4 linked regions of the Homo sapiens genome follow. Each later gene encodes a partner of the first gene's protein in a complex. Each region holds a gene or a part of one and is shown in the gene's direction. Other genes may lie near its edges.

The links.
Region 2: MED8 (region 1) and MED13L share a complex: the UniProt entries of both Homo sapiens proteins name them as parts of the mediator complex.
Region 3: MED8 (region 1) and CCNC share a complex: the UniProt entries of both Homo sapiens proteins name them as parts of the mediator complex.
Region 4: MED8 (region 1) and MED21 share a complex: the UniProt entries of both Homo sapiens proteins name them as parts of the mediator complex.

The regions. Positions count from the first base shown.
Region 1 is NC_000001.11:43,386,137-43,394,714, reverse strand, and holds the start of MED8 (mediator of RNA polymerase II transcription subunit 8), read left to right. Parts: upstream 1-4,914; 5' UTR 4,915-4,950; coding exon 4,951-4,956; intron 4,957-6,225; exon of another isoform or gene 6,226-6,286; coding exon 6,287-6,405; intron 6,406-7,067; coding exon 7,068-7,212; intron 7,213-7,716; coding exon 7,717-7,857; intron 7,858-8,044; coding exon 8,045-8,126; intron 8,127-8,488; coding exon 8,489-8,578. Other genes in the region: KICSTOR complex protein SZT2, read right to left, coding at 4,720-4,746. UniProt on the Homo sapiens protein: Component of the Mediator complex, a coactivator involved in the regulated transcription of nearly all RNA polymerase II-dependent genes.
Region 2 is NC_000012.12:115,987,039-115,994,852, reverse strand, and holds part of MED13L (mediator of RNA polymerase II transcription subunit 13-like), read left to right. Parts: intron 1-2,895; coding exon 2,896-3,833; intron 3,834-7,564; coding exon 7,565-7,744; intron 7,745-7,814. UniProt on the Homo sapiens protein: Component of the Mediator complex, a coactivator involved in the regulated transcription of nearly all RNA polymerase II-dependent genes.
Region 3 is NC_000006.12:99,544,057-99,551,870, reverse strand, and holds part of CCNC (cyclin-C), read left to right. Parts: coding exon 1-31; exon of another isoform or gene 32-842; coding exon 843-878; exon of another isoform or gene 879-1,278; coding exon of another isoform or gene 1,279-1,302; exon of another isoform or gene 1,303-1,561; coding exon 1,562-1,653; intron 1,654-2,295; coding exon 2,296-2,363; intron 2,364-2,471; coding exon of another isoform or gene 2,472-2,482; exon of another isoform or gene 2,483-2,559; intron 2,560-3,486; exon of another isoform or gene 3,487-3,574; intron 3,575-5,396; coding exon 5,397-5,476; intron 5,477-6,640; coding exon 6,641-6,759; intron 6,760-7,597; coding exon of another isoform or gene 7,598-7,649; exon of another isoform or gene 7,650-7,814. UniProt on the Homo sapiens protein: Component of the Mediator complex, a coactivator involved in regulated gene transcription of nearly all RNA polymerase II-dependent genes.
Region 4 is NC_000012.12:27,025,516-27,031,945, forward strand, and holds the end of MED21 (mediator of RNA polymerase II transcription subunit 21), read left to right. Parts: intron 1-904; coding exon 905-1,019; intron 1,020-1,831; coding exon 1,832-1,932; intron 1,933-2,769; coding exon 2,770-2,946; 3' UTR 2,947-5,158; downstream 5,159-6,430. UniProt on the Homo sapiens protein: Component of the Mediator complex, a coactivator involved in the regulated transcription of nearly all RNA polymerase II-dependent genes.

The DNA.
Region 1 (8,578 bases):
TAGAGACGAGGTTTCTCCATGCTGGTGAGGCTGGTCTCAAACTCCCGACATCAGGTGATCCACCCGCCTCAGCCTCCCAAAGTGTTGGGATTACAGGCATGAGCCACCGCGCCCAGCCCAACAACTATATTTTCAAAACATCATTTCTAAGTTCTCTTCACTTTCAAGATGTAATTTATCATAACTAGAAGACTTAATAATTTAAGCAGCTAGAATGGTGTTTTTCAAAGTGGGATCCAAGGACCAGCTGCATGAAAAATCACCTGAAGTGCTTATGAAAATACAGCGTTGAGTCCCAGGCACCACCCCAGACCAACTGAATTAAGAGTTGATGGGCTCCAGACTGGGTGCTGTGGCTCACACCTGTAGTCCCAGCTACTCAGGAGGCTGAGGCACAAGAATTGCTTGAACCTGAGAGGTGGAGGTTGCAGTGAGCCAAGATCACGCCACTGCACTCCAGCCTGGGCGACAGAGCAAGACTCCATCTCAAAAAAAAAAAAAAAAAAAAGAGTTGATGGGCTCCAGAATCTACATTCTAACAAGGTCTCCAAGTGATTCTTCCACATTAACATTTGAGAATCCCTGAATTAGTTCTCAGAGCATCCACACTCACATGGAGCTTCAAGTCCTCATATGAATCCTCCTTGAGTCTGAAGTTCATTACTCTCAGAGTAGTCTGGCAAGGAAGACAAAGTAGAGTTTCGGGGTCAGGGACCTGGATTCAAATCTGATTCTATCATTTGCTATATAGGTGACCTTGGACAAGTTACTTAATTTTTCCAAGCCTCGGTTTCTTTATTGATAGTATGTGGATAAGAATATCTTCATAGGGATGTCGTTGCAATTAAACAGGAGAGGAAGGCTATCATTCTTTGGAATATTTATTGAGGTCTACATACCATTTATACCAAGATGAATAAAACATTACCAGGCACTGTGCTGCATACCATGTATACCAGGAAGAATGAAGCATGGTCCATCTCATTAATTTGTTGCTTTGTCTTTTTGTGCCTGTCCCTTTGTGATTAAGGTCTGATTTGTTCAGCCTTTTCTAACCCTTGTGCTGTCTTTTGTTAACACATTCCCACAAAATAATGTGGATTATTTCCCCTCTTGAACTGGCTAAAATCTTCTTACCACTATACATCAAAGTCCTGAGCCTCTAGCATGGCCTCAAGCTGCATCTTCTCCAGCCTTATCTCTCACCAATCCCCACGCAGTTAAAAGCATGTATTCCAGTGTTAGAGCACTTAGGATCAAATGCTTGCTCTGCTGATTATTAACTATATAGTTTTGGCAGAGACTTACACTCTCTATGCCTCAGTTAGCTCATCTGTGAAACACAGATAATAAAAGTGCTTATTTTCAGATAATTTTTGAGTATCAGATGATACTCAGTAAGCATTCAGTAAGTGCTAGCTATTCTCATTGTCAAACTGCATCCACACAAGGAGTTGCTTCCTCTTAGTTCTCTGAAGGCTCCACTGGGCTCCTTCTCACCTGAAGATCTTCACTATTCCCTTTGCCTGCAATGCTCTCTGCCTCTTCTTTTAGAAAACTTCTACCTATTCTTCAGGCTTCAGCTTAAATGTCATTCTTCTGAGTCTTCCTATTCACAACCCCTTGCCTCCCCATTTCTTAACAAGGTAGGTTGAGAACCACTGTTAAACACCCTAATTCACTCCTTTACAGCACTTATTATCCTAATTCAATCCTTGTTTACTCCATAAAGATAGAGAGCATGTCTGTCTTACACGGCTCTGTATCCACCCTGATACTTAGCACAATTCTGACTCCTACCAGCACTCGTAAAATATTTCAAGTGTGTGATGAATGAATGATTTCCTAAATCTGACTATACCCAATCTTTCTCTCTTGGGATCCTAACAGCCTCTAAAAGTCAATAACTTTATTACACCCAGGGGCAGAACTCTTCAATCTCTTTACCTTCTGATAAAATTTTCAGAAATGCAAATCAGGGAGTTAAAAAATGCTTAACTTAGGCTGGGCACGGTGGCTCACGCCTGTAATCCCAGCACTTTGGGAAGCCGAGGCAGGCGGATCACGAGGACAGGAGATTGAGACTATCTGGCTAACACGGTGAAACCCCGTCTTTACTAAAAACACAAAAAGTTAGCAGGGCATGGTAGCAGGCGCCTGTAGTCCCAGCTACTTGGGAGGCTGAGGCAGGAGAATGGCGTGAACCCGGGAGGCGGAGGTTGCAGTGAGCCAAGATCGCACCACTGCACTCCAGCCTGGGCGACAGAGCGAGACTTCGTCTCAAAAAAAAAAAAAAAAAAGCTTAACTTTTGGCTGAGACTCCCAGGATTGTGTGTCTTGACTTGAAATTACTTTAGATCTGTACTGCTCTATATGGTAAAGACTACTATATGGGGCTACTGAGCACTTACAATGTTGCTAGACCAAGATGGGATGTGCTATCAGTGTAAAATACAACACTAGATTTTAAAGACTTGGTACCAAAAAAAATGTTAAATATCTCACGATGTTTTGTATTTTATTACATTTTGAAAATTTTGGGAGTTTTGGGTTAAATATATAATTACATTTTATTTCATTTGTTTCATTTTTTTTTTTTTTTTTTTTTTTTTTTTTTTTTTTTTTTTTTTTGAGACGGAGTCTCGCTCTGTCGCCCAGGCTGGACTGCAGTGGCACAATCTCAGCTCACTGCAAGCTCCGCCTCCCGGGTTCACGCCATTCTCCTGCCTCAGCCTCCCGAGTAGCTGGGACTACAGGCGCCCGCCACCACGCCCAGCTAATTTTTTGTATTTTTTTTAGTAGAGACAGGGTTTCACCGTTTTAGCCAGGATGGTCTCGATCTCCTGACCTCGTGATCCGCCCGCCTCGGCCTCCCAAAGTGCTGGGATTACAGGCGTGAGCCACCGCGCCCGGCCTTGTTTCATTTTTTTATGTGGCTATCAGAAAATTTAATATTACACATGTGGCTTGCTTTAGATTTCTACAGGACGGTGTTGTCCTAGACTATCTGCCTAAAAGGTATGTTGCATTTCCCCACAACATCCCTCCACCTCCTTTCACTTTAATCTATAATGAAACATCCTCTAAACTGTTTCATAGTTTTTCTTGTGTTAATATTTCTGATTGATCTTGATTGATATTTCTGATGCATGAGCTATTCTACCACCTCTGTGAACATGACTATTTTAAATAAGGCATAGTTTCCTACCACCATATTCAATGTTGGGTCTTACCACACCAAATCCCAGTGAACTGGAGATTTACCATTCTGTGGCTACTTTATTACTTATACCATGAACAATATGGTTAAGAACACAAGGACTGGAGCCTGGCCATCTGTTTTGGAGTCCTGACTCTAATACTTAATAGCTGTGTAACTTTGTTACTTTTTTTTTTTTTTGAGACGGAGTTTCACTCTTGTTGCCCAGGCTGAAGTGCAATGGCATGATCTCAGCTCATCGCAACCTCCACCTCCCGGGTTCAAGCGATTCTCCTGCCTCAGCCTCCCGAGTAGCTGAGATTACAGGCCTGCGCCACCATGCTTGGCTAATTTTGCATTTTCAGTACAGACAGGCTTTCTCCATGTTGGTCAGGCTGGTCTCGAACTCCTCACCTCAGGTGATCTGCCCACCTCGGCCTCCCAGTGTTGGGATTACAGGTGTAAGCCACTGCGCCCGGCTTACTTTGTTACTCTTAATATCTCTGTGCCTCAGTTCCTAAACTAAAAAAAGGAGATGATACAGTGTCCACTTCATAGGGCTGAGGATTAACTGATATTGGTAAAGAGCTTAGAATGGTACTGAGCATGCAGTATGTATGCAGTAATGAATACTATTTCTATCATTATACACATCTCTCACCCTTCCCACCTACTGATATGTTGGCACCTTTCCTGGTGGTGGTGTTTTATCCGAATCTGAGATTTTAAGCTCAGATCTTCTAACTCCAAACTGCTAGTTCCTGGATGAGTGGCATTTGAGTAAGGTACTAAATCTTTCTCATTTTTCAGTTTTCTCCTCTGTGAGAATGCCACCTTCCTTGCACAAGTCTGAATGACACAACATATATAAGGTTCCTTGCATGTTCCTTAGCATTTAACGAATATATCATATCACCTTTCTGGTTTATTACATGTGATTCTCACAACACACTATAAGACAGATATTTTATAAAGAAGGAAACAGGATCCGGGAAGACTCGCCTGAGGTTGCACAGATTAGCTACATGACAGCGCCAATATTGGAACGAGGTCTCAGTCCGACTCAAATGTTTTTTTCATGAAATTAAAGCTGCTTTTCTAAAAGCATGAGCCCTAGAACTAAATAAATTCATGCTGTTTATGGTATTCCAATGCCTAAAGAAATGCAAAAACCAGCAAAGTAAATCTACTGCCGTGTTGCCCATTGAAACTGCAACAGAAAGTCAAAATACAAGTTTTGTTAACACCGCTATAAGTCTTAGAGACGACGACGCGGGTGACATGTCAGTAAACAAAACAAAGCGAACAGTTACTCCTTTAGCTCCCCGAGGAAACTGCGGACCGCGTCCCATACACAGTCCGCAGGGGTACCATAGTCGGGCCTTCCGGGCTGGGCTGGTCCCTGCCGAGGCTACGCAGCCCGGCCACCCCCAGACCTAGAGGAGGCCAACGCCACGCCTGCCCGCCGGACCCTCCCCCTCGGATCTCGGGGCCCAGTGCTGCGCCCGCCCGCCCCTCACCTCCGGCTCCGGGCGCTCCGAGGCCATCACACAGCCCTCCCGCGCCGGCCCGGGCCAGTGAGGGTGTTCCACTCTTGACCCCTGACCTCGCTACCTCGGCACCCAGCAGGAACCGGAAGTTGGTGGGAGGGCCGAGTTCCAGTTTTCTGATTGGTGGACGAAGCCTTCTCGTAGGCGTTTGCTGACTGGAAAACCGGAAGTGAAATCGTGGCAGCCGCCTCGGCCGCCGCAATGCAGGTGAGAGTTGCGTTGGGCGTACTAGCGGCTGGCAAGCTTCGGGTACAGGGACCGAGAGTGGGCTGGCTAAGGAGAATGAAGAGTTGGGACTGAGAAGAGAGGGCAGAACCCACGGCTGATAAGGGAATGTGGGCTGGGGGGCGAGGCTAATTGGAGCGGGAGCGGCGGCGATTAGAGGTGGGGGTGGAGCTTGCCTGACAGGAGACAGTCGGGCTAAATCCGGAGGGAGGAGGCAGCACCTGTTTGCTTGGCGTGGGAAAGGATTAGGTTGTAATACGGGGAGGCTGAGATGCAGTCCAAGGAAGACGGCTCAAGAAGGTGGTGGGTTGGCTCAGGCCCTGTCCTAAGCTGCTGGATGGAGGCTGTTGGTTGCCGATATAGCAGGGGATCTAATTGGAAAGAAGCCCAAGCAGTGAGGGAATTGTGGGCCGCGATGGCTGAAAGCTAAGCAGCTTATAATCAGAGGCCATGGTGGAACCCGGGATCAAGTTTCTGTCAGGCAGGTTTGCAAGACAGTTTTGCATCCCTCTTCCCAGCCTGTGCCCTATAGTTGTTAAGGGTGAAGAAATGGAGTAAAACAGGAGACCACCGATGGGAAGGAAATGCTTTGCAGACCCCCAGCATTTTAATTTGTTTGTCCAGTGCTTAGAAGCATGTGTGGTTTTTGTTTTTCATTTGTCACTTAGTTTCTTGCAGCTGGTAGTCTCAATAAATGTTAATGGGTTGACTGAGCTTGTGAAAGAGGCACGGGAATATTGACACAGAGATAGATGATTGCATATTAATTCAGCAAGGAGAAGGTTGAAACAAAATGATGAGAGCAGATGGAAAGCTGGAGTCGTTGGTTGGGGGAGGGAAAGGGGAGAGCAGGACTGGTGTTCAGAGAAGTCTTCATGAGTAGGCAGATTTCCCAGAGACTGACAAGACAGCCAGGCTCACAGATGCTAGGATGGAGGAAGCTGGAGTGCATGTGCTACAGAGGTGCACATGAGAGAATGATCTCCTGGCATTAGGTCTGTCGAAAATGTCTCAGTGAGGGAGTGTAGGGTGTACCTAACACAGAGAAAAACCAGGCATAGATTAGGAGGTGATGGGGAAAAGGAATCAGTTGGTGGAAGGACTTGGGGTCAGGCAAACAGGTTGGAAGGTCTCAGGGTTGATGCTGTCTATAACCCAAATACCAAAGATAGAAAACAACCTGGCTATCCTATGCCAATGAGATCCTGTGTTACCTGACTGGTGTTGCACACCATCTCCTTGGCTTTCCAGCCCTCCTTTCTATGTGTCATACTCGTTTATCTGGGTGACCAACCTGTTCCTATTGGTGCAGAGAGAGGAGAAGCAGCTTGAGGCATCATTAGATGCACTGCTGAGTCAAGTGGCTGATCTGAAGAACTCTCTGGGGAGTTTCATTTGCAAGTTGGAGAACGAGTATGGCCGGCTGACCTGGTAAGAGTTACCAGGGCAAGCTAGGAAGGGCTTATGGGTGGGGGGGCCTAGCCTCCTGATGAATAGGACATTTCTAATGATGTAACCATTTATCAGTTTGCAAACATCTTTTGATTTGGAAAGAGCTGGGTTTCCTAACATTTAGCAAGTGGATTCCATGGCAAGGAAGTAGAGAAATGCTCAGTTTCCTAACCCAAGTTCTTTCTAGCTTTCAATTCTTACCCTTTGACTTCTCTGGTGAGGAGGTCCTCCCACTACAGCTCTATTCGTGCTGGATCTCTTGCCACAGATGTGGCTGAGTCTTTTAGAGCCAACCTACTCTGAAGTGTGGATCTTATTTCCAGGCTGGAAAGGAGGCTTTTACCCGGTTTCTGAAGTTTTAGTTATAACAGTGTAGCCCTGGTTCCTATTTTGCCACTGTTCCTCACCCCATTCAAACAATGAACTGGGTTTTTTCTACGTCTGTTTCATAAACTGAAACTATGTCCCTCTTTCATAGCCCTGTCATCCCTGTTAGTCTGTTCCCACTTAGGCTAGTCATAGGGCTATGAGACTTTTGGAGGTGAATCCAAGTGTTCCTAGCCTGAAGGAACTAGGACTATTTTACTAAGAACCACCCAGGGAAGGGGTACAACATTCTTACACCTTGTTACCACCACCAGGCCATCTGTCCTGGACAGCTTTGCCTTGCTTTCTGGACAGCTGAACACTCTGAACAAGGTCTTGAAGCATGAAAAAACACCGCTGTTCCGTAACCAGGTCATCATTCCTCTGGTGTTGTCTCCAGACCGAGATGAAGATCTCATGGTAAGAGGAGAAAAAGAATACAACTTGGGAAATTAAGGGGTTTTTTAGGCTTCTTTAGTATTTAGGGAAATTAAGTTATTAGCTGAGAGCCTAGAAATAATTTTGGAGGCCTTGCTTTTTGTTCTTCTGAAGGCGGGAGAGCCACTCCCAAATAGTGCTGTAATAACCTGAGGGGTATGTCACCAAGGCTGATACCTTTCTTCTCCAACATCTGTCTCAAGCCACAAAGTTTGCCCTTTTGTGACTTTGTCTATTCCAGTCTTTGAAGCGTGGCAGACAGTGATAGTTTAATTTGCCCCTAGGTCTGGTAGAGATAGGGATGTGAGAAGACACAAAAAATGAAGGATGGAGTAAAGGAGAGTGTGTCCTAGCAAACTAGATATTATGTCTCAGGTTGTATTTTCCTTGAAAATGCACTGTTTGCCTGTGGATGGGACTTTATGTCAGGCCAGATAGAATCTTCTTGGAGTACAGAGTAGGATCAATAAAATCTGTGTGTTACAGCGGCAGACTGAAGGACGGGTGCCTGTTTTCAGCCATGAGGTAGTCCCTGACCATCTGAGAACCAAGCCTGACCCTGAAGTGGAAGAACAGGAGAAGCAACTGACGACAGATGCTGCCCGCATTGGTGCAGATGCAGCCCAGGTTGGACTGAGTCACTGCCTTGCTGCCCCATCCCCATCCCATCATGAGAAGCTAGGCATTACCATTCCTGTCTAGTAGGGATACATAGTTGGTTGCGCCTAAGTTGCTTCTGGCAGAACCCAAGGAATAAATTTCTCCATATCGTTTCCTAGTTACCCTAATCTCTGCACAAATTTGTGTGTTACAGAAGCAGATCCAGAGCTTGAATAAAATGTGTTCAAACCTTCTGGAGAAAATCAGCAAAGAGGAGCGAGAATCAGAGAGTGGAGGTATGATGGGACTGGTGGCTAAACAGAGAAGGAGAGGTATATAAGATCACTGGAATGGGAATGGTTGTTTTGGAAGTAGTGAAGTTAGGACACAAGGGTGAACTGCTTTGGGGTTTGTATCCATTCTGTTAGCCTTTTGTATTTAAGGCCAGCACTGAAGCAGTGGAGGAAATGGGCAAAGTAAGAAGAGAGAATTCTGAGATAGGCTTGGGGGTCCTCTGGCTCTTTTTCTGGGCTGTGAGGGAGTCTAGATGTTGCTGAATTCAGAACTCCAAACCCTGGCACTCATACTGGTCTTCCAGCTGCCACGTTCAGTCCTGCATCAGAAGCATACTTCAGGATCCCCATTACTTTTTCTTCAGGTCTCCGGCCGAACAAGCAGACCTTTAACCCTACAGACACTAATGCCTTGGTGGCAGCTGTTGCCTTTGGGAAAGGACTATCTAATTGGA
Region 2 (7,814 bases), on another chromosome or scaffold:
AAAGAGTGTGCTGAAAAGCACCCTGAGCGCCTGGCTGGTGTGCTGCTGCTGTGCTCCGATTGTACTCTAGCTTACTCAGCTAGATCCTGGCACAACACACCTAGAACACCTTGGCGCATAAGGGGTTAGCTTAGCACATACAGTTGCCAATAAATGACATAGCAGTTTTAAGAACCCATTCAGCAGTTTAATCTCTTTCATACATACAGGTTTCCCCAAAAAGGTCACATGCAAGCTTTTGCTGTGTAATCGTTTAAATCATTTAGGTCATTATTTAGATCTATTACATCTTTCATTTGCCATCCCAAAGATTCTTTGTATTCTTAACTGGCTCTATTATACAACTTTATGTGATGAAGGTTTTGTTTTTGTTTTTGTTTTTGTTTTTTGGGGGGGTTTTTTGGAGACAGGGTCTCGCTCTGTCACCTGGGCTGGAGTACAGTGGCACAATCACAGCTCACTGCAGCCTTGACCTCCTGGGCTCAAGTGATCCTCCCACATCAGCCTCCTGAGTAGCTGGGACTACAGGCACGTGCCACCACACCCAGCTAATTTTTATGAAATTTTGTTGTAGAGTTTGTGTCTCCCTGTGTTGCCGACACTGGTCCTGAACTCCTGGGTTCAAGTGTTTCTCCTGCCTCGGCCTCCTAAAGTGTTGGGATTATAGGCATGAGCTACTGCACCTGGCATGTAGGTGATTCCTGTCTGCACTGTCCACTATGGCAGTCATCAGCTTCCTGCTGCAGGTGTTGACCACTTGAAATGTGGCTAGTGAGACCAAGACTGAATTGTTTTATGTTAATTAATTTAAATTTAGGACATGGGGACTGGTGGCTACCTTATTGGACAGTATGTTTCCAGCATATGTGTAATCCTGCTGTGGTCTCTGCTCGCCATCACCCTGGACTCCTCCTTTGTCACATGCAATACCCCTGCAATCATTTGCTTCATGTCTGCCATACTTGCTTATGAGCCACCTTTTGTTTCTCTTTTTCACTTTTGACTATCCAGCTTCTAGCGTAGGGTTGCTACTCAGTTCATTTTTATTAAATGGGAAAAATCAGATTACAAGATAAACCATTCTTACTACCCAGGGAGCAATTTAATTCTTTAGGTTTTCAGTTAGTACTCATAGTTCCTTTTCTGATCTGAACTGCGTAATAATTTTAGGGTTTTGTTGAACAGGAGAATTTGAAAGGAGTCCAGTTAGAGTAAAGATCGTTATTACACACTTAACTATTTTGGTCTCTAAGAGAGCAGTGATTGCCAATCAAGTTTTCTGGGTCATTTTTTTTTTTTTATCTGTACTCAAAGATACCACTGTGCCTCAGATTTAATATTTCTTTACAGTGCCTGATTTGGACTTTTAGGCTGGTAGTTTAGGCATAGCTAATTAAAAATCACAAGGAAATTATTTGAAGAGACATTTCTTTATGACGTGCTTCTTTCACATTATAAGTAACTGAATATGTAGTTTATTGGAGGAGCATTAGTTTAAGTACAGTATTAATATATATAAAAGGATATTAAAAAATTTTAAAAATATTCTTTTGATACCTTCTAAGTAGGAAGAATGGACTCATATGCTAATATACATATACATCTAAGAAAGTACAGTTGTCCCTTGGTATCCTTGGGGGATTGATTCCAGGACCCCCTCGGATACCAAAATCTGAAGATGCTCAAGTACCCTATATAAAATGGCAGAGTATTTCCTTGTAATTTACACAAATCCCTCTGTATACCTTAAGTCATCTCTGGATTACTTGTAATGCCTAATACAATGTAAATGCTATATAAATGTTGTACTTTACTGTTTTGATTTGTGTTTTTTAACTGTTGTTTTTTTTTTAATTGTATTTTTATTTTGATTTTCCATCTGTATATGGCTGAATCCACAGATGTGGAACTTGTGGCTATAGAGGGCCAACTGTATATCAAGAAAATGTTTTATGATAATGAAACAGCAGAACCTTGCAGACAGTGTTTTCTGCCTAGCTGTTCCAAAAAGAAGTCACTGCTTATGAGAAAGTAGATAACATAGCCCAGTCAGTCTTGGGCAACTAAAATAATTACACTATATGCAATGCATACCATATTGAAAAGTGAAAAATGAAGTGCTTACCACCCCACAGAAAGCTGCTGGAAGCTGGAAACTCTGATACAGTATGTGTACTTCTGTGCAACCACCTAATTAATACTGAGGCCTCTTAGCCGCATATGTAATATTTCTATCAGTTGTAGTATAGTACTGGTAAATGGGCTACCTAAAATATAATTCCCTCATGGTCACTCATTACTATAAAAATGTAAGCCTAGATAGGGCTGCATTTTGAAAATTAGAAAAATGTTAAATTTTCATGTGTATTTGATTATAACTACTTTGATATGATATATAGATTATAGCCTCAGAGAACAAGTACACTGGCAGACTTTGAATTTCAAAAAAAAAATGACAAAAATGTAATTGCAAATTAGATGGAAATTTCATCCTATGGTCCTCTAGCTAATTTAGTGTCTGCACTTATGGTTGAAGTTCCATTTAGTAGTTAACTTTTCAAATTACATTGACCAAACCCAGTACCATGTTTTCTTATAAAAATAGTAAAAGTTCCTTCAAGAGGTTAGGATGAGGATGCTTATATGTGGAATAAGTAGAAGGAAAGTGCTGTGTTGAATTATTCTTCATACCTTACTTTCTTCTTCTCTACACACTGCACTGACCTTTGTATCTTCTTTTTTTTTTTTAAGAGAAAATTAAATATACCAGTGTATCCCAGTGATAGCAGAAACAAATGATAAGAAATACACAGTACATGGCTGGGGTGATCATGTGTCTAGTTCAGCATCTGTGACATGCTGCCCTTCCTCACTTGGTGCCTTCTCTTTTTGTAGTAACGTGCCTAGTGTTGGGAGCCTAGCAGATCCAGACTATCTGAACACACCACAGATGAACACACCCGTGACGTTGAACAGCGCTGCCCCAGCCAGCAATAGTGGGGCAGGAGTCCTACCATCTCCAGCAACCCCTCGCTTCTCTGTCCCCACACCACGAACCCCCAGGACCCCAAGAACTCCCAGAGGTGGGGGCACTGCCAGTGGTCAAGGGTCTGTTAAGTATGATAGCACCGATCAAGGATCACCAGCCTCCACCCCCTCTACTACACGGCCCCTCAACTCTGTGGAGCCCGCCACCATGCAGCCAATTCCCGAAGCCCACAGCCTCTATGTTACCCTGATTCTCTCCGATTCCGTGATGAATATCTTTAAAGACAGAAACTTTGACAGCTGTTGCATCTGTGCCTGCAACATGAACATCAAAGGGGCGGATGTCGGGCTTTACATCCCCGATTCTTCCAATGAGGACCAGTACCGCTGTACCTGTGGGTTTAGTGCGATTATGAACCGCAAACTTGGCTACAATTCAGGACTCTTCCTTGAAGATGAGTTGGATATTTTTGGGAAGAATTCTGATATTGGTCAGGCTGCAGAGAGGCGCTTAATGATGTGTCAGTCCACCTTCCTTCCTCAGGTGGAAGGAACCAAAAAACCCCAGGAGCCACCCATAAGCCTTCTCCTCCTCCTCCAGAATCAACACACACAACCTTTTGCTTCACTGAATTTCCTGGACTACATTTCCTCTAACAATCGCCAAACTCTTCCCTGTGTAAGCTGGAGTTATGACCGGGTGCAAGCAGATAATAATGATTACTGGACGGAATGCTTTAATGCGTTGGAGCAGGGGCGGCAGTATGTGGATAACCCCACTGGTGGAAAAGTGGACGAAGCTCTGGTGAGAAGTGCCACTGTGCACTCTTGGCCTCACAGCAATGGTAGGTGTCCCAGAACACAAATTTACTTTGAGGAGTATCTTGGTATGATCATAACTTAAAAGCTTTCTTTACTGTATTTGACAAAAAATTTTAATTTCATGTCTTTCGGGGGAAAAAAAAGAACCTAAAGTGAGAGCTGTATTGATTTTATCCTAAACTTATGGACTGGGAGAATGTTTTATATTGAAATGCCTTTGGAGAAGAGTAATTGTTTTCTGAAATTTTCCTCTTGTAACTCATAAGTAAGCAGTCTATGTTGGGAACCTGTGACCGCTGAGTATCAGAGTCGTCAGGAGCTTACAGACTGATAATTTGCACACTCTTGCATGCTTAAATCCACCATTCTTCCAGATCAAGTTTCCAAGGAACCTCTTCCATGAAGCCTTCTAGCCATTTCCAGAGTCTCTTCTCCCTTCTCTGTTTTCCCCCTTTGTTGTATCACTTATAACAAAATCACATTTTACTTTGCATTGTGGTTACTGGGGCATATAACTGGTTGTATTATTAAAAGCTCCAGTGAAGTTGGGCTGTAAGAGTGCCAAGCAACTTGCTGTTTCCTTTTCTTACTCATTCACTGCCTAAACTGCAATGCATCATGGGGGATAAAATGGTTACTGAAAGAAACAAGGCACTTACCCTCATGGACTTTCTAATCTATTCTGGAAGTGGACATCAATTAAATAATTACACAAGCACGCATATTATTACAACCCATTTTATAAGTGATAAAAGCATGGGATAGACGGGGCACTCTAGGCTGAAGGTCAGAGAAGACTTCGTTGTAGAAGTAGTAACATTTGCTCAGAGATCTCAATGATGAGTACACATTAACTGAGGAAGGAGAATGGGGAGCGAGGCATGTGTCCCAGACAGGAGGTGCTGCAAGTGGGAAGGCCCTTGGTTGTATGGAGCTTGGGGCCTTTAGAAACTGACGCGAGGTTAGAAGCATGCAGGGGCTAGATTACAGTGACTCTTTAGAGGCATGCTAGGGGTTGGGTCTTCCTGCAAAAAGCAATACAAAGTCATTGAAAGGTTTTAAGAAGAAGCACTGATGTCAGATTTGTGTAGTTAAAAAGGAAAAATAACAATGTGCACTGGCTATAATTCTGGGTATGGATTAGAAAGTGGCAGGAATGGATTTGGGGAGACAAGGAGGTTAGTGAGGAAGACCTAGTAAGAAACAATAGCTTGCCTTAGTGTCCTTGTGAAGAAGGTGGAGAAGAAATATTATTGCAGGACTCAATAGTGAGTTGAGTTTTGGGGATAAGGGAAAGAGAGATGTTGAGGAGTCCCAGATTTGTTACTTGTATACCTGGATAGTCAGTGGTGTTCAAAGATAAGACTATATCTGGAGAGAAAGTTTATAAATTGAGTTGTGGAAGTTTGGAAGTTTTAAAGATCCCTTTTGATATATCCAGGTAGAGGTATCAAGTAGACTCTTGGGCCTTTTGCTCAGGGGAGAGGGAGTGGTTGGCATATAGGTGATAACTTCAATTAAGGGGGCACAGATGAGCTCATTGAGGAGGAGGAGAAAAGTATAGACGAGAAGAGGACCTGGTAGAGCTTAGCTACATTCTGACGGGTATAGGTGAGGCAGAGAAGCGTGAGCCTATCAAGCAGAGAAGGAAGAACCATAGAGGGGGCTTTTGGAAGCCAGGGGTAGCCAGTGTTTCAAGAAAGAGGAAGTGATTGACAGGCATTAAAATGCAAGTGAAGATTTTAAGATAAGGATTAAACATGTCTTCTGACCGTGGTGAGAGCTGTTTCTGTAGAGTGGTGGGAGCAGAGGCCAGACTGGAAGGGTTGTGTGAATGATGTGCGAACCCGGCTTCTGAACAACTCTCAGTCTTGCAGGGAAGAAAGTTATATAAGCTTCTTAAATACAGTTTGAAATCTGAAGTAATTAAAAGTATGTCCAGAGGTCAGTAGAGTATGGGGAGTGATGGGTATTTTCTGACTAGGCCAATCAAGGAAGCTTTCATGGAGGTAGAGATGACTAAGAAAGCATTAAAGGGTTATGCTCATTTGTATAACTGCTTAGGTTCAAGCACAGTGCCTTATACTTAAGCAGACCCTTAATCAGTTTCTACTGAATGAATTTATGAAGTGAAGAAAATGCAGCCTTTCCCCTAAAGAAATGTGGATGATCAGCTTGGGTGAGTCCTTTTACTAGATAGGCCTTCGGACAGAAAAGCAGTCTGTGTGCATGAATCAGTGGTGTCGTCTTTCAGGATGAAAAATAAGACATTTTATTGCAGGGGAGGTCTGGGTTTCAAATTTTAAGATGCCTAAAAGTACCAGATAATGTAAATGAATGTGATGGGAGACATTTGCAAAAGGCAGTGCCTTAAGCTGTCTTTTCAAAACTCACTTTCTATTTTGCAGGCACAGGAATAGGGTTCATAAGAAACGTGCTTGCTTTTAGTTTCCTCAAATCTGTGGTTCTCTTGGTCTGTGATTTCCTGCTTTTGATAGAGCCATTAATACAAGAAGTATTCACTGTTGTTGTTTACTATATGTAAAAAGAAGCACTGGCTGAAGATAAAAGGCAATGAAAACTGCATCAGACTCAGGACAGACAGCAGGGAAGGGGCCATGAGGTGCCTGAGAGGGACAGCTGCTCCTCAGCTCCAGCAAGTGGTGGTTATGCAGGAATATGGGTCTCCCAGTTCAAGGGAAGCTGGCAATCTAGATTTGTGTGTGAAATTTCCTGGAGTGATTTGTTCCAAAGTTTAACAAAATATTCTGTGGACCACCACTTTGCAACCTGTGTTTTACTGATTTAGGGACACGTTTGAAAATGTCTTAAGAATCCTTAATCATCCTGTGTTTCAAATTTAGTTGGCAGATAAATCTTAGATTTCTTTCCATGCCCCTTCCCTCATCAGCTAGAAGGGTAAGAGGGAGGCAGAGTCTTCAGGAATCCAGCTGTGCAGATTCACACCACATCACCTCCAGCGTCATTAGCTCTTTCTGCAGACCTTTTTAAGAATCTGATTTGCATGATGAACCCTCCATCCTGAGAAAAAAATACGTATGTCCAAGCGTGCTTGCACAGTTTTGCATGGAGTTCAGACAACTTTCAAATTTTAGGTTAGAAATCCCTCCCCAGGGCGACTGCTGGGACTAAAGTCATCTGCATTTAGAAGGCAGTGAATCCCATCCGTGCCTGCAGCGGACTTCGGTCCTTGAGGGCTTCAGCTGTGTTTCCCTGTGCCTCTGGCTGCACTGAAGATTGGCCTTCTCTTCATGCATTCTGTATTTTGTGAAAATATTTTTACAATTAGGAGCATTTAAAGAGTTTTTAAAAGCTTTTATTTAAGTTCCATTTTTTCCTACTTATCATATAAACAAAACATTGATATTTGCAAATAAAAGTAATAATTAAGAAACTTTTGCAGCTGTCTTATGAAAATCCTTGGAAACAGATTTCCATGGTTTTAAAAAGTCGCACCTATCCATTTTTCCACTTTTAAACAATTCTTCCATTAAACTTTTTTATATAGAGTAATCCATTTCCCCTTTTATTATTGTTGATACTAAATTATCAATTATTTTCTCTAATTTAGTAGAAGAATATCTTTCCTCCTGACTCCTAAGTCAAATATTTTAGAATCTACTACAGCTAATAACGTCATTGTTCTGAATATAACTGAGGCTCGAGGTGATGGTGAGGAAGAGGAGGGTGCTAGCCCCCTTATCTTCTCTGTTTCTTCTCACTTCTCTTCCAGTGCTGGACATCAGCATGCTCTCCTCCCAGGATGTGGTTCGTATGCTGTTGTCCCTGCAGCCCTTTCTCCAAGATGCCATCCAAAAGAAGCGCACGGGCAGGACCTGGGAGAACATCCAGCATGTGCAGGGACCACTCACTTGGCAGCAGTTCCATAAAATGGCAGGACGGGGAACCTACGGTAGGGTCTTTGTCCTGTTTAAAATTCCTTCTGACTTCAGTGCTGTTCAGTGAAGAGCAGCGTTAGTTAC
Region 3 (7,814 bases), on another chromosome or scaffold:
TCCAAAGGAATTTCCTTATAGGATGAATCATGTAAGTATATGATATAAAATGGAACAATTATCAAAGCTATATATAAACTAGCTCTATTTTATATTAGACTAAATTTAATAGTTTCCTAGAAATGGCAGTTTCAAATATTACATAAATACAGACATTATTCTAAATTAAAGCTAAATAGCTTTTACCATTTAAAAAAAATACTTCATAGTGGCGATTATCAACCCTGGCTGCTCATTAAATCACCTTGGGAACTTGTAAATAATACTGATGTTGGATCCTTTCCAGAACAACAAAATCAGAATTTTCAGCCTTGGGGCTCCCAACATTGGTACTGTGTAAAAGGTCCCAGGTGATACTACTATTTAGCTGGGATTAAAAACTAATGGAACAATATGAAATATAAGGTGAATTTCTATTGACATTTTAATAGGTATGTCCTTTTTCCACCTTGCAAGGGATTTGTTTATTCTCTTTAAGTTACATTTTTTAAATTAAGTAGAAATAATTGTATTTTTGCATTTGCTGAGTAGAAAGTATACTGGAAAATCTGATGGTTTTACAGGATATTTTAAATAAAAGTGAGTAATAAGAATGATTGTGAGAAGCTGGCTTTTCCTTACAAGGATTAAAATCCTTATAATCATAATTGCATTTCTAATAGTAATTTTTTATTGCAGATATTTATTTTAATATAAACTATGTTTATTGTCTGGATTTTTAAAACTTTTTAGTAAAAATTTTTGATAAATTACTATAATGTCTGTAATTTATGTTAGATTAAGTGGACTTATCTAATTTGGTTTCATATTGACATTTCATTGATAATCTTTGTTTTAAACAGATATTAGAATGTGAATTCTATCTGTTAGAACTAATGGTAAGTAAATCTTCTGTGATTAATAGATTAAAACATTTTTAAATTAAATGAAGTTGGAAATTATTTAAAGAAATGATTTTAGAGAGGTACATTTTAAAACCATCCACCTAATATGTGATGGTGAAATCATGGTAGCCTATTTATATTAGCACCTAGAGTCTCTCTGAAGCCTGTAAAATAATTTGTATATCCTACTTAGGATGGGAAAATTTTTCTGTTCTATAGTAAGTAACTATAATGAAAGGATTACAAACAGACAAGTCAGGACATTAAACCACCATAAATTATGTGCACAATTTGTGTGTGCGTGCAGTGTTATTTAAAGATAGATTATGTCTTTGGCAGAATTCTGCTCCTCCAGTTGGGAATTATGAATTTATAGGCTAATAAGAGGTTTCAGTGTGTTGCAGATGTGACACTTTGAGTCTCTAAGGGAATGAATGGATGCTGACTGACTGCCAACCGATTTATCAAGGTATATTCCAGAGAGAGCACTGCCTTCACTATTACGGTAGAGTTTAGGGCTGTCATACTGCTAGCTTAAGAGAATAAAAGGGAAGCAAGCATGAGTTAGTGAAATTCACTTTGAAATACACAATTACAAATCAGTTGGGTAATGATAACATTTTTGTGTTGTAATAAATCTGTTTTTTATACATACACATTTTTTAAACTGTTTCTAGGATTGTTGCTTGATAGTGTATCATCCTTATAGACCTTTGCTCCAGTATGTGCAGGACATGGGCCAAGAAGACATGTTGCTTCCCCTTGCATGGTAATTAGAACAGAAGTTATTAATAGTGTAACATGTTATTAGATAGGAAGGTTGACAATTAAATATGAAGTTAAGTATTTTTAAAGTCATTAAACTATTGCCCCAAGATATTTTATGTTGAGCAAAATACCACTTGTTGAATTTTAATAACTATAGTGGTGTAAATGCCAAAATGAAAACAATCCTAAATTATCTGTTCCATAAATATACCTATTAAAATTTAATTTTATACAAAACACAGACTGTTAACATAAAAATTAAGACTGAAGTTATCTTTAAAGTAATCAGAATACTTTTTGGTAGTCTGCAACATACATATAAATTTACTGTATAATTTCTGGTTTTTTAATTTGATTTTTCTGATTTTTAAAAAATTAGAAAAATGTGTTTATAATTTGTTATGAGATTTTGAAATTTAAAATATATTTAGCTGTAATTTTATTCATTGATATGTGCTTATTTGTTGTCACATTCATGTATCCATCCTTTTGCCTTGATGTTTTCACTTTTATAGCTGTGCTTCAGTAGTATAAAAGGAAATAAATGTGTGCAAAGATGGGAAATCTGGCCCTCTCTGGAGGAAATATACAATCAGATGAGGTAGTTCTGCTTTCAGTAATAATATGATTTACATTTCTATAGGAGGATAGTGAATGATACCTACAGAACGGATCTTTGCCTACTGTATCCTCCTTTCATGATAGCTTTAGGTATGTAAGCATGGTGTGCCTTTATGAGTTAAATTGTTATAAACTTATTTAGGTCATCCTAAACTAAATTTCACCCTATTGTACTTTATGTTTTTATGTTCCATGAAGTAATAGACTAATCCTTGCATGTGAGCTTTCAATAATATGAACTGCAACTGTCATAAATCAGGATTATTATTCCCCCACCCCCTTTTTGGTAAGTTTTTTTTTTTTTTTTTTGAAACCATTCAAAATAGTTTTAATCGGTGTCTGAATAGAACATATTTGTTTGTTTAGAGGGAAAAGTTCAGAATTAAGCCAGCTAATATTAGTTGTAGCATGTAAAATAATTGGGGCTTTCATATCCTGAGCCCAAACAAATACTCAGAGGTTGAGTAAAGGAGCATCTGTGGTCCATAATGCTTGGCTGGAGGAAGACGTTAAGTACATTCATTCTACAGTCTGTGGAAAGCAGTGCTGTAATGGGTGGAGTCAGATAGTCCTAGGCTTAAACTTTACCTCCTTTACAATTGTGGGAAAATTATCTGACCTTTCCGTGTTTGTTTCCTTAATTGTAAAATGGAGAGAATACTAATAATTCCACTGAGCCGTTTGAAGAATTAAATGAGATAGGTTGTAGAGCACCAAATAATGCCTGTTATATATTGGGCACTTGTTAATTTTTGTTCCTTTTCCTTCTATTGATTTTTTTTTTTTTTTTTTTTTGAGATGGAGTCTCACTCTGTCTCCCAGGCTGGAGTGCAGTGGTGTGATCTTGGCTCACTGCAACCTCTGCCTCCTGGGTTCAAGCGATTCTCCTGCCTACAGGAGGATTATAGGTGTCCACCACCATACCTGGCTAATTTTTGTATTTTTAGTAGAGACAGGGTTTCGCCATGTTGGCCAGGCTGGTCTTGAACTCCTGACCTCAGGTGATCCACCCTCCTTGGCCTCTCAGAGTGCTGGGATTACAGGCGTGAGCCACTGCACCCCAGCCCCTTCTATTGATTTTTATAACTCCATCCTCTTGATTTTCCCCTCTTATTTTCCATTGGTTTGTCTTTGTTCAGTTGTTCAATTATTCCTTAAATGTTGATGTTTCTTGGCCTTCTTACATCAGGGCTGACAAATAGGTTATACTTACACTTCTGTATTACTGGCAGTTCCCTGAAAGGACTGGATTTGAAAGGATTTTGAGTGGTGTCCTACCCAGTGGGTAGGAATACTGGGATCTGCATAGGTAGGAAGGAAGGGATAACAGAACATGTGTCACATCTTTGCCATCCCTGCTGTCTTCTTCTTGGGTACTTTAACTGAGATTCATGGCTTCTACTATCACTTACATGCCGAAACATTTAAATCTCTTTATTTAGCCAAGATCTTGCCACTTGGCAGTTCTTTATATCCATCTTCCTTTTACATAGCTCCGCTTGGCATCCCACCAGCACCTCAGACTCATGATGAGGATTGAGCTTATCACTTTGCCCCAAAATATGTTCCTCCTTTTAATGTCTTTGCCAGTTTGGTGAATAGCACTAGTTATATACCTTAGTTGGAAACCCAGCAGTTAGGCCCTTTCATCTCCCTCAATACCCACATGTAGTTGTTTACCAGTACATTTTGTGCCTTCCTCTCGATTGTTCCTTCTGTAATCTCATAGTCATCTTCTCATTTCTATCCATGTTACCACAGCAGTCTCCTAACTGGCTTATTAGCCTCCAGCACTCCCATCCTCAGAGAGCCTGTCTATCTTCCAAACTGTTGAGCTAGGCTAGTGGTTTCACCTGGGGATAATTTTGCCCCGAGGGGACATTTGGCAATGTTTGGTTTTAGTTGTCATAACTAGGGTAGGGTGCTACTAGCATCTAGTGGGTAGAAGCCAGGGATGCTGCCAAGCATCTTGTAGTATTCAAGACAGTGTCAAAGAATTGTTCAACCTAAGATGTCAGTAGTGCCAAGATTGAGAAACCCGGAGCTAGCCAAATTCGTCTCCCAATTGATATACATACTATTCTCTTCTCCCACTCTCATTTTTTTTTTTTGTAAGACTTGGCTTAGATATCAGCTCTTCAGTGACCCTCCCCCACCCTTTCAGCATCACCTCAGTCTGGGTTTAGGATGCTTCCTCAATCTTCAGTGTACTCTATGCATGCCCATGTTAATAGCATTGTCCACTGTATTTTAATTTCCTGTTTTTATCATGTCAGTCATTTGGTTTTTTTTAACCTCTTCTTGACCTAAGCCCTACTCATAGCTTTGCTTGACTTAGGGCAACCAGTGTGTCAGTTCACATTTGAGTTGCTATTTGCCTAGAATGTCATCCTTAGCAAAGACATGGATAACCAGACCACGGAGTATAACTTAAGCTGGAGTGGGTTAAGGGTATACAGGCTGCTCAGTAGAAATTGTTTTAGGCAAAATTATGATGTAGATTCCTCTCTTTTGTTAGTTTATATTGTATATAACATATATAACTAATATTGTATACAGTATATTACATTTATTTTCTAACCTTTATTTGATTACAACACTGAATTCTGTAAGGATGTGCCCAGCTTTCACATAACTTGATCATGTGCTAATAATGAAAAGGAAGAAAAAAGGCCAGGCAACACTGCTTTTAACTGAAATGTGGAAACACAGTCAACATTGTTAAAACCTAGTATATTAATTAACATTTTTGTTTGTTTTGTTTTGTCACACTGACTTCTGGGTGCAGTTTAACGGCTACTTTGTACACTACTCAGGGATAACTTCCCTTTTCTGCTCTCCTCATTGGATGTTTTTCCTCTTTAACGTGCCTGACTCTCAAGGCAACTGCACCATGACTAGCACGCAGTGAGGACCAGATGTCAAGAACTTGATGTAATCTAGTAATTTTTTCTGTCTCGGATTACATTGATGAGATGGTCAGTGGTAACTCTCATATGTAGCTGTTTAATGTTTTTTAAAGAGTGTTGGAAAATACACAGGAAATAGTGAAAAATCTTTGTTAGATCATATATTCTGTGTTTGCAGTTAAACATGGACAGTTGTCTCTCATTTTCATTTCAGCTTGCCTACATGTAGCCTGTGTTGTACAGCAGAAAGATGCCAGGCAATGGTTTGCTGAGCTTTCTGTGGATATGGAAAAGGTATTCCCTTAGTTGTATGTAAACTTGGATGTTTAAAAATTAATGTCATATTTACTTATCATGAGCCTAAAATCTTGTGATGTCCACCAGGCTAAGAAGATTATTGGTTACAAAATATTAAGAAACATGGGCTGGGCATGGTGGTTTGTGTCTGTAATCCCAGCACTTTGGGAGGCCTAGGTGGGCGGATCACCTGAGGTCAGGAGTTCAAGACCAGCCTGACCAATATGGTGAAACCCCGTCTCTACTGAAAATACAAAAATTAGCTGGGTGTGGTGGCATGCACCTGTACTCCCAGCTACTCGGGAGGCTGAGACAGAATTGCTTGAACCTGGGAGGCAGAGGTTGCAGTGAGCCAAGATCGTGCCACTGCACGCGAGCCTGGGCAACAGAGCGAGACTCCGTTTAAAAAAAAAAAAAGTTTGGTAGGAAGAGTTAATGCTGATTATTTAAGTTATGTATCTCTTTTCAGTTTAGGATTAAACAGAATGGTAAACTTTTGGTTTAATTGGTTGCAAAGTAGCCTCTCATTCCCAGGATTATTTTAAAAGCTCCCTGGTAACCACTGAATACTACTGTGAACTTCTGTAACATAGCCTATCTCCTGGCAGAATGGCTTTTGCTGTGTTTCTAGCTTTTCTGCTCAAGTGTTAAATGCATTAAAATTAATCCTAAGGTTAGGTTCTACTCAGGTGGGAAAAAAATAGCTAATTTGTTAACTAGTTGTTTCAAATTTGTAGCTGCCAGTTTTTGAGCACCTTAATGTATGTGTAGTAACAGAGAATCAAAACATCTTTTGTGCACTACCCCCGATTAAGTTGTTTAAAATAATTTATACTAGAGGAGTGTGCTCTATAGTGGTATATTCCCTCATGATTAGAACCTTTATTCTTAGTATGTTTCAGTTTAAAAGATACCATCAGATGGAAGGAAATCAGCTGCAGAGATAGATAAGAATGGACAATGCACACATGCTGAAAAATGAGATGCTAGAAGGAAAATCCTAAACAGCACTGTGGTGAAAAATACTGCTTTCAAATTTATCAGGATTTAAGGACAGAGACTATTTACTGTTTTCTGAGGGTTGTGTAGTGATGTATGCTCTTTATATAAAAAATGTTGCTTGTTTTTGCCACTGAGAACTTTTCAAATATTTTCTTCTAGATTTTGGAAATAATCAGGGTTATTTTAAAACTATATGAGCAGTGGAAGAATTTCGATGAGAGAAAAGAGATGGCAACCATTCTTAGTAAGATGCCAAAACCAAAACCACCTCCAAACAGGTACTTTGTAGACTTTAATTATTGATGTCATTTAATCATATATCATACTTACTATATTTTTCTTAGATTATGTTGTTTTGTAGTTTTTAAAACATTTCTTCCAAAACTTCATGATCCATGTTAATTTTATTTTTTAAATTTGTGATTTGATTGAGAATGTCTCATTTAAAAAAATCACTAATCTGATTAGTAACTTTTCCTAATGCAGTGGAGGTATATTACAGGTATCTCTCAACATATGGTCATATACCATAAATTTAAAGCTGACAGAATTAGGTAAGTTCATCTGAAATTCAGGGCAGAATTCAGAACTATAGTAGTTTCATGTCAGTTTGATTCTGTGCCATCTTTTTTTTTTTTTTTTTTCACTGCTGGCTATTGTCCTGTTTTATAAATTTCAGTAGCAATTTTCAAAAATTTCAATGAATGATCTGATATTGTAAAGATAAAGAATTTTGGTTTTTAAGTGACCCTAAGGTCCATGGCACATAAGAATATATTTTTGCTAAAAATGAATCACCTGTGCTAAGAGGGTTTTTTTTGTTGTTATTGGGGTGTATGTGTGTGTTTTAAGTAAGATGTGTTCATTTAGTTCAGTGGTTCTCAGCCCTCACTGTGTATCAGTTCATTTGGGGCAGGGAGAAAAAGTCAGAAGGGAAATAAAGAAATGCCATCCATCTTAATTGTTTCTTTAGAAAAATGATTGTTATATAACAAGATAGATTTATGGATTGCTACTCATAAGTTAATGTTACAATTTGGAAAAAGTTAATACTTTATTCAAGGAGCTGTTTAAGGCAGTCATTCAAACAGCTACCTTTGGATGCATTTTTTGCAGAAATTCCCTGAGTGATTCTCCACTAGTGGCAGGGCCTGAAGCTGCAAGATGATGGTGGACAAGATAAGGCAATAATCCTATTGCCAAAGTTACTGGTATTTTCAGTTTTAGTTATTTTTAAGTATTCAGCATTTTTATTTTAAGTATTCAGCATTTTCCAGGAAATTACCATATTTCTTGCTGACTTATAAAGGTTTGCTGTATTTATATATGATTT
Region 4 (6,430 bases), on another chromosome or scaffold:
GTGAGATAATTGGTTGAACTAAGCAACAGTGATAGAAGGAAAAGAGAAAGATTTGTAGTATTAGCAGAATATGAAGATCAAAGGAAAGTAAGAATCTGAAGTTAGATTGGTTGACTAGGAGACTTTCAATACAAATTAAATATTAAAAAGAGGAAACAGTTGCCTTTGAGTTCTGTCATTGAAACAATGGCAGAGAAACCCAGTGGAAATACTTATTAGAAATAGGAGGTTTGAGAGGTCAAGACTAGGTGAGAGAAATTGGTAGGGAAGATAGGTGTATTTAATTTGGAGATGGTAAGGAATTGCTATTCCCAATCTTTAAAAGTACTTAAGGAATACTTTTAGAGTACAAGAGTTTACAAATTGAGTCTTGAACAAATACATTTCTGCTTACTTAAGGTGCTTTTCTGAGCAGCCTCTTCCTCACTATTTCTTTACACTTGTAACTACTCCAGTCTCAGAAAAGGAATCATATACTTTGTGCATGAGAAATAAATTTTTATTAAACATGGTGCCATAGATATTTACAAGTCAAATTTGCTCTTTTCCATCACTATCCCCAAAAAGTCTTTACTTGTGGCTTACAATAAGTATTGGCCAATATTCTCTTATCATTTTACTATCACAAGAAAAGAAAGATTATTTTGTATTTCAACTGTTTCAACTAGATTTATATCAAATTTAACTTTACCTAGATTGATACCAAACTTAGTTTCTTTGCAGAATTAAAACGTTTAATCAACATTAATAATAACTGGCTTATTTTATCAACAATCACTCCTTTCTGTTTTATTCCCTTGCTCAGAGATTATCATTACAGAAACTTATTGTTGTTGCCATTACCAATAAAGTCCTTAAAACTGATAAGTCCTTTCTAACCTTGATATGTTTTCTTTGGCCTAAGCTTGCAGATCAGTTTTGTAATGCCATTGGAGTATTGCAGCAATGTGGTCCTCCTGCCTCTTTCAATAATATTCAGACAGCAATTAACAAAGACCAGCCAGCTAACCCTACAGAAGGTAAACAGGTTTTCTTAGCTTCTCTTAGTTTGACTCTCACATTTTTTGTAATCCTTTAAAATTAGATTTCTTGAGAAATTCAGCTTATTTTATTTCTAAAATTATTGTTGTTTGAGAATATTACAAGTTTTGTTTGTTGTAAAAAATTTACAGTCAATTCACCTAACATCTCATAATTCTGGTTCATGTCAGATAATAGATTGTTACTCCTTTAGAGGAGAATTTGTATTAATTTAGCTGAGTGAGGGACCTTAACAAGGAAGGCATCCCATTTATAAATTTCTTTATTCAGGTGACCACTATATTGTCATAATAAATGAAATTACATACATTATGCTTAATTCCCAATTTGAGCTAAATGTGTAACAGGATTGGTGTATATTTTAATCATTAGAATCTTCTTTTTTTTTTTGAGACGGAGTCTCGCTCTGTCACCTAGGCTGGAGTGCAGTGATGCAATCTTGGCTCACTGCAACTTTCGCCTCCCGGGTTCAAGGAATTCTCCTGCCTCAGCCTCCTGAGTAGCTGGGATTACAGGCTCATGCCACCACGTCTGGCTAATTTTTGTATTTTTAGTAGAGATGGGGTTTCACCATGTTGGTCAGGCTGGTCTCAAACTCCTGACCTCGTGATCCGCCTGCCTTGGCCTCCCAAAGTGCTGGGATTACAGGCGTGAGCCACCACGCCTGGCCGAATCATTAGAATCTTAGGGCAGAAAAAGCTATATGAAGTTTCTGGTTTCATTAACTTAAAATTTGTTTCTGAAAACTTGAGGTTTTCTAATATCCTAATCTAGCAGTATCTTTCTCTAGAGTATGCCCAGCTTTTTGCAGCACTGATTGCACGAACAGCAAAAGACATTGATGTTTTGATAGATTCCTTACCCAGTGAAGAATCTACAGCTGCTTTACAGGTAAGCCTCTATTCCTTTGAGAATTTTACCAGTAATAGAGAATTTTGAATTAAAGGAGGTAGATTTAGTACCTTTTGTCTGTGTCCATTTGTGCTGCTATAACAACATACCTGAGACAGTAATTTATAAAGAACAGAAATTTATTTTCTCACAGTTCTGGAGTCTGGGAAGTCCAAGATCAAGGCATTTATTACTCACTGTGCATGAGTAATGAATTTTTATTAAACATGGTGCCATGTTTAGGGCCATGTTGAGGGCCTTCTTCCTGTTTCCTCACATGGCTGAAGGCAGAAGGGCAAAAGAGCAAGAGCTCCCTCTTCAACCTCAAGCCATATTTTAAGGGTACTAATTCCATCTATGAGATCTCTGCCTTCATGACTTAATATCCTCTTAAAGGCCCCTTCCCTCTTAATACCATCACATTGGGGATTAGATTTTAATGTATGAATTTTGGAGGGGATGCATTCAAATCATAGCACCTTTTGTTATAATATTCAAATTTCCATTATAAGGAAACCTCTTATTTTCCTCAATTTTGTCTCTTTTCCTAGTGAAGAATGAGAGGAGGGTGGCATTCTACAATTGGAGTAGAATAATGGTGTCTAAACGTAATGTGTAAGGGAGTCACTTAAAGATATCTAGAGATCTCTAATTGAAAAGTCATTCTTTTTAATAATTCACATGGGGAAAATTCTTAAAAGTTGTCTGATTTTTAGAATTTCTTTACTGAAAAACATATCACAATGATTGCAAAGTCATCCAGATTTAAAAATAAGTACATCTGTGACAGCTTCTCTTTCTAAACTCTAAAGATTTTAAAATTTGTGTCTTATAAAGGCTGCTAGCTTGTATAAGCTAGAAGAAGAAAACCATGAAGCTGCTACATGTCTGGAGGATGTTGTTTATCGAGGAGACATGCTTCTGGAGAAGATACAAAGCGCACTTGCTGATATTGCACAGTCACAGCTGAAGACAAGAAGTGGTACCCATAGCCAGTCTCTTCCAGACTCATAGCATCAGTGGATACCATGTGGCTGAGAAAAGAACTGTTTGAGTGCCATTAAGAATTCTGCATCAGACTTAGATACAAGCCTTACCAACAATTACAGAAACATTAAACACTATGACACATTACCTTTTTAGCTATTTTTAATAGTCTTCTATTTTCACTCTTGATAAGCTTATAAAATCATGATTGAATCAGCTTTAAAGCATCATACCATCATTTTTTAACTGAGTGAAATTATTAAGGCATGTAATACATTAATGAACATAATATAAGGAAACATATGTAAAATTCTGTTATGACATAATTTATGTCTCCATTTTGTTGTATTGGCCAGTACTTTTACAAATCAAAACATCTCTCAAGCCAAAGGAGAAGACAGTAAGAACAGACATAAGGGACATTTTAGTTTGGGCTAGTGTCCTGCCTCTTAGAGGTGGCATTGTGTAAATCTGAGCTTTGAGCAAGAAAGTTTTGGAAATTGTGTTGCTTTTAAGAAATAGAGTTAGTGTGGCTGGATAAGAAAGTCACATTTATGCAAATGTTTCTTCTGCTAGAACCTCATACCTGTTCTAGTTCATCTCCACGTTTATTTTACCAAGAGATCCTCTGTCAAGAGAATTTCCTGGCTGTTGTGAAAGAATTTTTCTACATCCTGAACTATTTTTCCTATTTCTTTTCACCTTGCTTTTTTTCATCCTTAATTTGCTTGTCATCACAATGAAGTATGTTTTTTGAATCATCAATTCTTTCTCATTCTCCATTTATCTGAAGGTTCTTTTGCCCTTATTAACCTCTCAACTTTTATTGCTGTATTCTAGTCAGACCAGAACATACTTCCACTACATCAGTTACTTGGCATCATTTCACCTCAGTTTATTATTGCCAAATAATAATTTGTGTCAGCATTTTCAACTATGGTTATTCATCCAACCCTTGGATCTCTTTGAGTCTACTGATAATCTCCACTGGAAAGGTGGAATTGAAATGTGGTCCACATTTTAACTAGCTATTTCCTGGGGCTGTATTTTTCAGAATATGCTGAGCTACATTTGCTGCAATCTGTTGCTATTCAGAGTTTAAGTTTCAGGAGAAAACAGGAACAATAGAACACTCTGCCTGTTATTTTTGTTGTAATCAAGCTTTTCCACAGTTCTTGAAAAGTACTATGTTTCAAATTTCAGGAACACCAGCGTTAGCTGTAAAAGTTGCAGCAATTTATTGGCTAGTCATAGAAAATTTTTGAACTTTTAACTGTATTTTAATTGATGTTTATTAAAAACACTTTGCTATCAGATATTTGGCATAAATCTGTACTCTTCATTATAGTTTTGGGGGGAGAGAAGATTCAGTCAGAAAACTTATTCAAAGTACCTAAGTATTATAAAGGAGTCAAAAAGGTACAAAGAGAAAAGGTCAAGACATTTTTCAAATGAGGGAAAACTAACAGGATTTATCACTAGTAAACCTGCTCTAAAAGAATTCAAGGGAAGCTTTTTAAAAAGAAGGGAAGTTATAGCAGAAGGAAACTTAGAATGGCAGGAATAAAGAAGGCATAATGTATAGGGTAAATATAATAGACTTCTCTTGAGGTTTTAAAAATTACATTTGTTATTTGAAAGAAAAAAATTAACGTTGTTGTATGTGATTCTCTGTAGAGGATATACAGTTTTTTTTTGTTGTTCTTGTTTCTGTTTTTTTAAGGTGAAGTCTCTGTCACCCAAGCTGAAGTGCAGTTCTGTGATCATGGCTCACTGCAGCTTCACCCTGGGTTCAGGTGATCCTCCCACTTCAGCCTCTTCAGTAACTGGGACTACAGGCATGTACTACCACGTCCAGCTAATTTTTTTTTTCTTTTTTTTTTAGAGATGGGGTCTCACTCTGTTGCCCAGGCTAATGCCAAACTGCTAACCTCAAGATATTAATACTATACAGTAGACTATAAGAAATTAAGTATTTGTATCATCCCTAGAGCGACACAGATTTTTCCCTAAAAAACTACAGATTATTTTCAAAAGCATTAATAAATTAAGGTGGAATACTAAAAAAGATTCAGGTAACCCAGGAACGAGAAACAGAATAAAACAATAGTAAACCTAAATTTTATTTTATTTCATTAATACAGCAATAATTAAATGTCAATGATCTAAGCTGATTTAAATCTAAAAACTGGATAAGAAGCTGTGGCTTGTAATTAAAAATAGACCTTTATTCACTAGACCTACAGTTTGCTTTTTTCATATGTTAAGAAAAGTTTAATATCCTGCTTCTCTATTTCAGTTCTAGGGGCACCACTATCAGTTAACCCTAAAGATTTCTGTGGGTGAAACCATTTTGATTACCATCTTGCTCTGCTGCCAGTTATGGTAACCAAACTCTCTTTGTTTCTGGATGCTAAATCTGTCCACTTGTGCCTTAACTACATCCTAACTCCCGTCATCTTCATTGAATTTAAGGAGCCAATTTCTTTTTTTGAGATGGAGTTTCACTCTTGTCCAGGCTGGAGTGCAATGGCACGATCTTGGCTCACCGCAACCTCAGCTTCTCGGGCTTAAGTGATTCTCCTGCCTCAGCCTCCCGAATAGCTGGGATTACAGGCAGGCACCACCATGCCTGGCTAATTTTGTATTTTTAGTAGAGACGGGGTTTCTCCATGTTGGTCAGGCTGGTCTCGAACTCCCAACCTTAGGTGATCCACCCGCCTCAGCCTCCCAAAGTGCTGGGATTACAGGCATGAGCCACTGCACCCGGCCAGGAGCCAATTTCAATGGGAGTATCCTTTACTATCATTCCTGACCTGTGATATTGGCCATTAGAGCCTTTCAAGAATGGTACCTCCTGCCGATGATTTTTTTTAAAGCCTTAATGAAGAGAGTGTCCTCTGGATCCTTCCAGAGAAGATAGGATGTGAGTGAGTAAGTTATGTATAATAATTTCACCCCAAAATTTCTATGTCCTTGATACCATTCCCTGTATACCAAGGAAGGGTATTCTGGCATTTCACTTTGATTTAATATAAGTAAACCCTGTGTCTGGGCATTAGTTAACAAACCAAGTGACTACAAGTGATAAGTAACTTTTACCATAGACTGTCAATTACCTTGGCAATGGAAACATTATTGCTTTTTAATCCAGTCAGATCAGAGAACAAATTCCAGATTTCCATCCTTAAGATTCTGTGTCTCTGCTACCACTTCTGGTAGCAAAACATGTCAGTGTGAGGTAGAGTCAATGGAATGTAGCCATGAAAAAAAAAATGCTACTACAAACATTACAGGAATAAGGAATTTGATCGAAGAATTAGCATTTACACAAAATATGGGAGGAGTTAGGGAAGTGAAAGAATGAAAGGAGAAAGAGGATAAAGAAAACACTAACCACATCACCCTAAAGCCCTTATTGCTAAATGAGGTTATTGTAGTGCCAGTTAAGTCCAGGTCAGCCAAGGCGTGCGTACCCCTTGGCCCCACTTGGAAAGCTGTGTGGATATGA